2 separate regions of the Homo sapiens genome follow, and region 1 is linked to region 2. A link means that fine-mapping ties the variant in region 2 to the expression of a gene that starts in the linked region. Tissue or cell type: regulatory T cells. Region 2 holds a variant in brackets; the other region holds the start of a gene. All regions are shown on one strand. Distances are between the middles of the regions.

What was found. PIP is the estimated chance that this variant, and not a neighbour inherited with it, causes the effect.
Region 1: it holds the start of DSCC1, and the variant in region 2 is fine-mapped to the expression of DSCC1 in regulatory T cells (Bossini-Castillo 2019, PIP 0.92).

The regions. Positions count from the first base shown.
Region 1 is chr8:119,853,944-119,859,418 of GRCh38, reverse strand. It overlaps DSCC1 (DNA replication and sister chromatid cohesion 1), which reads left to right and starts at 3,525. Exons shown (of 9, transcript NM_024094.3): 1 at 3,525-3,805. The coding sequence starts at 3,624. LOC105375728 (a long non-coding RNA gene) reads right to left here. Exons shown (of 4, transcript XR_928590.3): 2 at 4,617-4,744; 3 at 3,540-4,013. RefSeq lists a silencer at 3,374-3,433 and an enhancer at 3,544-3,853.
Region 2 is chr8:119,792,275-119,797,274 of GRCh38, reverse strand. It overlaps TAF2 (TATA-box binding protein associated factor 2), which reads left to right. Exons shown (of 26, transcript NM_003184.4): 8 at 172-285; 9 at 1,644-1,743; 10 at 3,824-3,909. Among named protein-coding and RNA genes, the nearest start is that of TAF2, 38 kb to the left of the region's middle. The variant A/TA (reference allele first, on the strand shown) is at 2,234.

The DNA of each region.
Region 1 (5,475 bases), 62 kb before region 2:
GGCAAAACCCCATCTCTACAAAAAAATACAAAAATTAGCCAGGCATGGTGGTTCCCGTGCCTGTAGTCCCAGCTACTTAGGAGGCTGAGGTGAAAAGATAGCTTGAGCCTGGGAGGCAGAAGTTACAGTGAGCTGAGATGGAGCCACTGCACTCAAGCCTGGGCAACAGAGTGAGACCCTGTCTGAAAAGAAAGAAAGAAAAAGAAAAGAAATAAAATAAGGAAAGAAAGAAAAAAAAATCTGGGATGGGGTAGCGGTGAGGTGATCTTATCAAAGAAATCATATAATAAAACTTCCCAGAACTGAAGAATAATATAAGTTTCCATATTGAGAGAGCCTGGCACAGACCTGAAGAGAACTATGAAGAAACAATTAGCAACTCCAGCCTACTGCTGCTATCCAGAAATATGAGTCCCATGTTGATAGATATCCTGATTTTTTTTAAAAGACGAAAAACGAAAATGTTAATGAAAACTTTTCTAATTTATATGTGGGCTGGGCACGGTGACTCACACCTGTAATCCCAGCACTTTAGGAGGCCAAGGTGGGCAGATCACCATCACCTGAGGTCAGGAGTTCGGGACCAGCCTGGCCAACATGGCGAAAACCCGTCTTTACTAAACGTACAAACATTAGCTGGGCATGGGGGCACACACCTGTAATTCCAGCTACTCGGGAGGCTGAGGCATGAGAATCGCTTGAACCCAGAAGGCAGAAGTGAGCCGAGATCGTGCCACTGCACTCCAGCCTGGGTGACAGAGCAAGACTCCATTTCAAATAATAATAATAATAATAATAATAATAATAATAATAATAATGTGTAAATGATGGCTGAAATTAAACATGCCTGGCCACACAAGCACGAAAGTAGGGAAGGACGGGGCCATCTGTAGGTTTGGCTATCATGTGTGTGAAGAGTACTCAGGGCCGTGGAGTCTGGAAAGGCAGAACGGACACAAAGCACAGAAAACCAGAAACCAGCAGAGGTTTGAGTATGAGCTTTGACAGGAGAGGGAGTGGTTGATGATGACCTGTGAGCATAGTGTAATGTCACTAGAGAACTTCATGTTCAGAAAATTAATCTGACTGTGGTATACAGATGGAGGGGCAGTGGGAAGGGGGATGAAAAGCAGGAAAATCTGTTAGAAAGTCACAGTAATAAGAATAAGGACCGAAAGCAAGGCCACATTTTCAGTTTTTGGAATGTCTGGAAGTGACTGTGTTCCTTTTTTTTTTTTTTTTTTTTGAGACAAGAGTCTCACTCTGGAGTGCAGTGGCATGATCTCCGCTCACTTCAACCTCCGCCTCCTGGGTTCAAGCGATTGTCCTGTCTCAGCCTCCAGAGTAGCTGGGATTACAGGCGCCTGCCACCATGCCCGGCTAATTTTTTTGTACTTTTAGTAGAGACGGGGTTTCGCCATGTTGGCCAGGCTGGTCTCGAACTCCTGACCTCAGGTGATCTGCCCACCTTGGCCTCCCAAAGTGTCGGCATTACAGGCGTGAGCCACTGCACCTGGCCGTCACTGTGCTCTTTATTGAATAAAAAAGAAGAGAAGAGAGGAAAAGAAAAGGAAAAAAGTTCATACATGATTCTATAATATGAACTAAGATTTAGTAAATAAAATTCTCATTTCATGCCATGAAACACAATATATGAGCAATATAATCAAGAGTACAGTGTCCAAGAGAACAGAATCAATTTTAGCTGATTCTGTTCTCATGAACAGAACTTTTGAAATTTATTATAACTGTTCATTTTTTTACCTGATAAAGAATATTTTTTTCCTGCTACCAGATGAATGATTAAGCCAGCTTCAATCGTTTTTTGAAAAGGTACAGAAAATTTCTTACTTTAGAAAAACATATTAACATAATTTTAAAGAATGAATTAATAAAAACTATCATCATTTTGTCTTATGAGAGGAACACAGGTCCAGCTCCCTGACAGAATATCAAATTAATGGCAATAATTTCATACCATTAATTGGAAATTAAATTCATAATGATTAATACATAAAAACAAAAAGAACTGCTGCCATTTATTAAGCAGCCATGCATTTTAGAATGTACATCTTAAGAATGTAGGTCTTATGTGCTTTTTTATCGATAAGGAAGTTGTACTCAGAGAAATTAGGTAAATTGCCTTAGGTCACAAAGTTCTGAAGAGAGTTGGGATTCGCAGCCATGCCTGTCTGATGTAAATGTCAGGGTTCTAGTTGACACTGCTTCTAGTTGTAGGGAATGTTTCCCATTTAATAGAGCAACTACAATGGTTGATTCCCTTCAATAATAACTTCTTATCAGGCAACCACTGTCACATTCAGGATTTCATTCCACCGAATTCCTATGCATTCAAATGTAAAAGAGGCTAGTGAAGAAGTAGGTCACATGAACCAATCTTTCCACCACCAACGAAAGCACTGCCCAGACTCCTGGGATGCCCTACTCTGGTATTTTCGTATCATTTTACCCAAGAATTGAAAAAAATGTCTGCTCAGATCCTTTGAATTCAACACCTTACCCACCACTTTCTTTCACTTCAAGCAAGGTCTGATTTGCACTAACTAGTAGGAGGTCACCATCTCTTAAGTGATTCCTCCCAGACTATTTTAGCTCTCAGGGACAGCCAGGGCCCTCAACGATTCCCTAAGCATCTCTGGGAAAGTTTACACATTACGCTGTTACAAGCAATTCATGTATGTGTGCATAGTGAAAACCTTTTCTCTTAAAACTCTTAATACTGAAGTTCCCCAAACCTTTGGAAAATGTACAAGTCACAGATGCTCCTGTGACTTGTTTTTCCCTTCGGGTGCGTCCTCAACCTTGCTTAAATAAACCTCTATTGAACGAGACCTGCATCAGTCACTTTTCGGTTAACACTAGGTATTCAACGAATAGACTAGTCCCGCCGTTGTCTCCAGATATGATGGTGCCCTGACCCAAAGAAGCGAGATACTCCTTCCCAGGGCCTCGCTCCCGAGCATGGGTTATTTGCACAAAACCCCGCAGGAAGCTTTTAGAGCCACAGTCGGCTAGGCTGGAGTCAGACTCTGTTACCTCCTGACTCTGCCATCACGAGCAAGGAGCCTGCTTCCTCATTGGCAAAAGGGAATGACCAAGGCACCACCTTACAGGGTTGTGGCAACGGGCTCATGGAATTATACATGCCAAGTGGTTATCACAGGGCCCGCCACTGGCGGAAGGTGAGACAATGTGGACGGCGAGGAAATGGGAGCATCGGCTGGAAACCAGGGACGGAGATCGGGGATGGGGGGCGGGCAAGGGGACAGCGGAAAGGGTGGGCGAGGGATCCGTGTCCCAACCCGCCGAGTCGCAGCTCTGCCCCTGCGAGCTTCCGCCGAGACCGCCCCCCGGGAAGCCGCGTTTCCTTCCTGCAGTCGCGGTCCGGCGTGGGGCACGGAGGGGCTCGCGCTCCCAGAAGCCGGCAGGCCTTCCCGCGGGCGGGCCCGCAGCGCGCTCCGCCCCGGAAACACGCCCATGGCCGCCTTGGCGCGCTTTCAAACGCTCAGGTTTCCTACCTTCCGGCTGCTTGGGAACTTCTTTCTTGCCCGCCAAGCCCGCAGCCACCCGGGCGCGGCGGGACTCCTAGACCCGGCGCTGCGATGAAGAGGACCCGCGACGAGGTGGATGCGACGCTGCAGATCGCCAAGCTGAATGCGGCCGAGCTGCTGCCGGCGGTGCACTGCCTGGGCTTCGGCCCTGGGGCCAGCGGCGCTGCAGCCGGCGACTTCTGCCTGCTGGAGCTGGAGCCCACGCTGTGCCAGCAGCTGGAGGATGGACACAGGTGAGCCCTGGTCACGCGGCGCCCCCAGCCTCTGGCCGGCCACGTTATTTTCTCAGCGGGGAAAGTCGGGATAAGAAAACAGGGCCAGAGAGATGCACTGACCTGGCCGGGGGCTCATAGCAAGCTGCCTGTTCCCGAGGAGTCCACGCCTCCGGTGGGCCGTCCAGTTAGCTGCACTGCGGTGATGAGTAGCACTGGTCCAGCTGACCTTGGAGGCATGTGTCAGCGGGAGCAAGTCAGGAAATACTAATACAACCTCCGTGAAGTTTTTGAAGAGTTACCGGTGATTACAGGGACTCTACAGGACACCTGTCACTCTACCTTAAAATACAGTGGTGATACCCAATGTTTATAGAACTCTTGCCTTCCACTTATATTTATTTTACTCAGATGATAGATAGGAAGTGCTGGGAATCAGCTTACAGACTTGGTAATTGGGTGAGACCCCTACCCACCCCGAAGCAAACTTGCTTAGTAGGGATCTGAAGCTGTTTCTAATTCCAGGTCAGATACAAACTTGCTGCAAGATCATTGATTAGAAGTCGAAGTTGAGGTAGTTTTTTAAAGGCAGTCTTGAGAAGTCTAGAGAATCGTTATATCCCTCCACCCTGTGCAGCCCCAGCTCCTGCAAAATAGGGAGCTCCAGCTTGATTCTCTTTTGCACAATTGGTCCTCCGACACCTATATTTTATTAGGCTATTTTTTCTCTTTTTTCTTAATGGAATCCTTTAGGCTGTCTTTCAGTTTTCGTACTTTGCCCACCAAAGAGTGTTAGAGTAAACTGGCCATTCTTCAGATACCTGCTATATACCTCAAAGTACCTTTAAGGGAACTGAAAGAACTTCACTAGTCTGTTTCCATCCCGGTTCAGTTGGTGGAGAGTTGAGAAAGGAACTCAGGTGTGAGGACTTTCTCTCGGTCCAGTTCTAGTTAATCTAGCTGGCAAAAACAAAACAAAACAAAAACAAAAAAATAAAAACAGGCCCTGGAAACGTGTGTTTTTAATTTTGGGGTGTAGGGAGTGATGGTATAAACAAAATATTTCAAAGTGGGGGTAGTGCAGTTAGAGAAATAAATGTTAAAGACTAGGTACTTGGGCCTATTAAGCATTATTAGCATTAGGAATCTAAAAAACCTTTTATTCTTTTTACTTAAATGAAGACTTAGTCAAAAATAAATACACAGTCTGCTATTTCAGGTTTCTTATTATTTATTCAAAAGAAACGAGTTGTGCACAGGAGAATTAAATGCTTTACAGACAAGGAAAACTGCTAGAACCAACTCCCCTGTCATTGCCATCATCTTTGTCTTTAATCCTTCCTTTTCCTCCGCTTCACCTTCATCCTTTCCTCTTCCTTCTTTTTTCTTTATCTTTTTTTTGGGGAGAGAGTGGTGGGAACAGGGTCTCACTCTGTCAGCCAGGCTGGAGTGCAGTGGCACAATCACGGCTCTCTGCATGATGGTGCCATGACTACTTGGGGTCAGGCGATCCTCCCACCAGCCTCCTGAGTAGCTGAGACTTAAGGTGTGCATCATCACACCCAGCTAACTTTTAAATTTTTCTTTTGTAGTGATGGGGTCTTGCTATGTTTCTCAGGCTGGTCTCAAACTCCTGCTCTCGAGCGATCTTCTGGCCTCAGCCTCCTAAAGTGCTAGGATTACAGGCATGA
Region 2 (5,000 bases):
AAGCAAGTTACTAAGATGATGAATTTTAGCTAAATTTTGAAAAGATTAGAAAGGTGGGAGAATTTTTTCTCTATTTAGCTTCCATTGTTTTAAAAGTGGAATTATTTTATTTTCACTGAATAAGTATTTATTTCTTGGTTATAATGAGCTTTCTTCTCTTTTAAATTCCAGCACAAATCTTTTACACAGTGCCATGATTATAGATGAGACACCTTTGACTAGAAGGTGTTTAGCCCAATCCTTGGCCCAGCAGTTTTTTGGTTGTTTCATATCTAGAATGTCTTGGTGAGTGACCTGAAAGTTCATACTACTGAGAAGAGAATCAAGTTTATTTTTCTTTTCTTTCTCTGCATTTAAGCTGACCTTTGCCCTAATTGCAGATAGCTAATTTAAGAGACACTGTTCTATATGTATTTAAAGAAAAATGATTATAAGTTTCATCCTAACTTTTTGGCCATGAAATCAATATAGTCACTTATATTTATTAGTTAATTAAATTAGCTAATTTAAAAGACACTGTTCTATATGTATTTAAAGAAAAATGATTATAAGTTTTATCCTAACTTTTTGGCCGTGAAATCAATATAATCACTTCTGCAGTTTATAAGGTAAGATTTTGGTAAAACAGTGTCTTAAAGAACTGAATGAATTCTATAAATAAAAGAACTTAAATGTACAGAAATCTGAAGTTAGAATTTTAATGTCAGTGTTCAAAGCAATTGGAAATAACTCAATATTTAATGTAAAATAGTACTCCTCTGCAATATTAATAATTATTTAGGGATTTGCCTACTAGTGCTCAGCTTTGTACCAGTTTGTTGAAAGAAATGAAAGGTATATATGCTTTTTCTTTTCTTTTTTATTAACTTGAGATTATTTTGAAGAAAACAGAAAAATTAAGATTATAATTGTGAACATTCTATACTATATATAGTATGGAAATGTTGGTTTTCTTTTTTCGCTTGCTGGAGTGGAGAGGAGAGGGCAGAGACTAAAGATAGATCTCTTGATTTGTAGTTTTCCTAAAATCACATGTAGAAGTTTCATTAAAGAATAGTGCTTGGAATGTAGTAGGCAAAATATTATGGATGGATGGATGGATGGAGTGGGTAGATGGATAGATGGATGAGTATACAAATGAATAAATGAGTGAGTGATGTTAATTGCCATTTTTCTAGAGAAAGCAAAAAAAAATGAATGAAGGAATTAAACTTTAGGTTTTAGAATATCATTGGTAATGGCATAATGCATGGGATTGGCAATAATAGCATGTAGACTTTTAGAATTGAACAGTATAGTCCTGGCTATGAGCAAGTATTTCCTTAGAGGCAGAGACAGTAAGAACAGAGTTGGGCAGGAGGGAAGCAGCACTGTCAGAGTAGAGCATGTACTCTGGTAATTTATACCTGAAGCAAGACTGTAAAGCAGTCTCATAATGAAAGGTAAAGGCAGGTGTGAATAAGGTATAATAAATGGGCAAGTAGAACTCAGAGGAAGTTGGGAAACCTGATAATTTGTTAATAATTTTCATTTTCTTTATGAAGGCAGGGAAATACACACTACACTTATTCCGTTATCCTCTTTGACATTATCTGAGGAGTTTTTATGATTAAAAGTAATTTATGCTTTGACTTTTTGCTTAGGTCTGATGAATGGGTGCTGAAGGGAATTTCAGGCTATATCTATGGACTTTGGATGAAAAAAACTTTTGGTGTTAATGAGTACCGCCATTGGATTAAAGAGGTAATAACAGCTAGATCCCTTATCCACTTACAAGTCTTATGTCCTCCATTTTTAATGACTGTAAAATACTTTTAAAATACTGCTTGAAAATCCCTAATTTTTCCCAGCAAAATGGGAATTGATTTACTGAGAAAGACTAATGGTCTATTTTATCTAATCTCCATTGTCAACATTGGCCCCTAAAAACCTTTTTTTCCCCTAAGGAAGAGAATATTTAAGTTTCTTAAACATCAGATTGGTCGTTAGGTATGTCCCAGCTCCTTATAGTAGTCGTTTGTAACTGTGCTTCCTAAATTTGTTAGCTTTGTAACCTTAATCTTTCCAAGTCTCTGTTTAAGGAGGGCAATTGTAGTGTCTGCCCATAGGCAGAGATTATTAGACATTATACAAGTAATGTGCATGATGCTTTGCACATATTAACTGCTTATTATATTCTGGCTAGGCTTTGAATGCATTTATGTTGTCATTGTCACATCTTTTTTTTTTTTTT[A/TA]ACGATTTAAAGATTTGGCCAAAAAGAAAACATCAGTTGTATTTTACTTAGCACATTGTGGTCATATACATAAACATTTTAATCATATCATGCTTAGTGTCTTCCTTCTCAGGTGGAAGAATTGCAGCCTTTCATATCTTCATTAAACAAACCTTATCATCTTCCCCGTATTCTCATTTTACATATTATTATCATCCAAGAGTAAACTCAAGTAAGCCAAAAAGTTAATTTTCGAAGACTTCAAACACCTAGAGCTATTAAGGTATTTGTACATCTAGAACTGGAGTCTCTTCTTTATTTCAGAAACTATTAAAGAAGAAGAACAAAGTAACACAACACTTAAAATATTTCACGCACTGTTACAAATGTTTTATAAATATTAAAATGATCTTAATTCTCCTAACTACCTTGCTATCATTCCCATTTTATAGATGAAGAAACTGAGGAACAGAAAGAAAGGTTAAATTATTTGGTCAAAGTATACAGCTAGTAAGTAGTAGGCCCAGGATTCCAGCTTGGCTTTTAGTTTCTTCTCTATGCTGTTTGCCACTTTTCTGTACTACATCTGTATTATTTAAAGCAGTTAGGAGTTTCCAGCACAATTGTGGTAGTGTCTTTATTTTAACTTATGCTTTTTTTTTTTTTTGAGACGGAGTCTCACTCTGTTGCTCAGGCTGTAGTGCAGTGGCGCAATCTCGGCTCACTGCAACCTCTGCCTCCCGGGCTTAAGCGATTCTTCCACCTTAGCCTCCTGAGAGCTGGGATTACAGGCACCCGCCATCACGCCCGGCTAATTTTTTGTATTTTTAGTAGAGACGGGATTTCACCATGTTGGCCAGGATGGTCTCGAACTTCTGACCTCGTGATCCACTTGCCTCAGCCTCCCAAAGTGCTGGGATTACAGATGTGAGCCACTGCGCCCGTCTTCACTTATGCTTTTTTTCTTTTAATTAACCAGGCACGGTGGCATGTGCCTGTAGTTCCAGCTTCTTGGGCTGAGGTGGGAGGATCACCTAAGCCCAGGAAGTCAAGGCTGCAGTAAGCCATAATCAGCTACTGAACTCCAGCCTGGGTGACAGAGTAAAACCCTGTCTCAAAACAAAACAAAACAACTGCCCCCAACCCCCCCTTTTTTTTTCTGTTTAAAAAAAAAAATCCCCCTTTTTAAAAGTTCAATTTATGTCATGTTAGAGAAGACTGGAGAAGTTTTAAAATGATAGATTCCTGACATAATTTATTCCCATTCCTTTTTACTCGCCTAAATTTTTTGAAGCAAAATACAGAGAAGGAAAAATAAACTTGGAGACAGCTCAGAGAGATTGAGAACAGCCATAAGAAAAAGTTGCCAGGCTGCTGTCCAGCCCTGAAGTCATAAAGTAGAGAAGTCTTTGGCTTTTGTCATTCTGCCAGCTGTGTAGGCTGCTTTATTTATAAGAACATAAACTACTCTTTAAATACATTTCACTTATTTTAAGAAATTTACATTCTGATTTTAGGAAATGAGAATTCACAGTTTAATTCTAAAATTTGGTATGTAAAAAAATGTTACTTTACAAATTTTACTGACTCCTATTTTTATATATTTTTTAGGAGCTAGACAAAATAGTGGCATATGAACTAAAAACTGGTGGGGTTTTACTACATCCCATATTTGGTGGAGGAAAAGAGAAGGATAAGTATGTTTATTGTTCAGAGATGATATTATAAACCTTGACTATATATAACAATTATTCCATTTAAGAGCTAAATAGTATTTCATTGTACCTCAGAATTTATTTAACCTTTTTCTTATTGCTATTCTTTGCTAAAGCTTACAGACTCATAAAGCTCATAAGATTGGAAGTAATAAGTAAAATATAAAAATAATTTTTAAAATATCAGATTGATTATAAAGTATCTGAAGTTTTAATGTGCCACATTAAAAATTTTTTTTTAATTTTTTTTAAATGGGGTCTCACATTGTTACCCAGGCTGATCTCAAACTCTTGGGCTCAAGCAATCCTCCTGCCTTAACCAATATGCCACATTTTGAAGGAGATGCATAATACCACTTGCCATAGTTTGTTTATTCTACTATACCAAAGTACCACAGACTGGGTAATAATGTAAACAGTAGAAATTTACTTCTTGTTCTGGAGGCTGGGAAGTTCAAGACTGAGGCACTGGGAGGATTGGTGTCTGGTGAGGGCTGCTCTCTGCACCTAGTTGGCACCTAGTTGCTGCATCCTCCAGCGGGAAAGAATGTGTCCTCACAAGGTGGAAGGGATGGCAGGGCAAGAGAACGCTCCCTTCAACCTGGAGCCTTTCTATGAGGGCGCTAATCCCATTCATGAGGGTAGATCCCTGATGATTTAATCACTTCCCAAAGGCCACCTCTTAAGACTGTTGCGTTGGGGTTTAAGTTTCAACATGAATTTTGGAGGGGGCACCATCATTCAAACAAACTATAGCACCACTCATACACTGTGAGAGTGTAGTTTGATACAGTGTTTCTGATGGGTAATTTAGTGTGGTACTAATCAGAATTGTAGAATGGGTAATTTTTAGATCCAGCAATTCTTCTAGGTATGTGATCATGTAGAAATTCTTCTGGCCCAGCGCGGGGGCTCATGCCTGTAATCCCAGCACTTTGGGACGCTGGGCAGGTGGATCACCAGAGTTCAGGAGTTTGAGACCAGCCTACCAACATGGCAAAACCACATCTCTACCAAAAAATACAAAAATTAGCCAGGCGTGGTGGTGGGTGCCTGGTCCCAACTACTTGAGA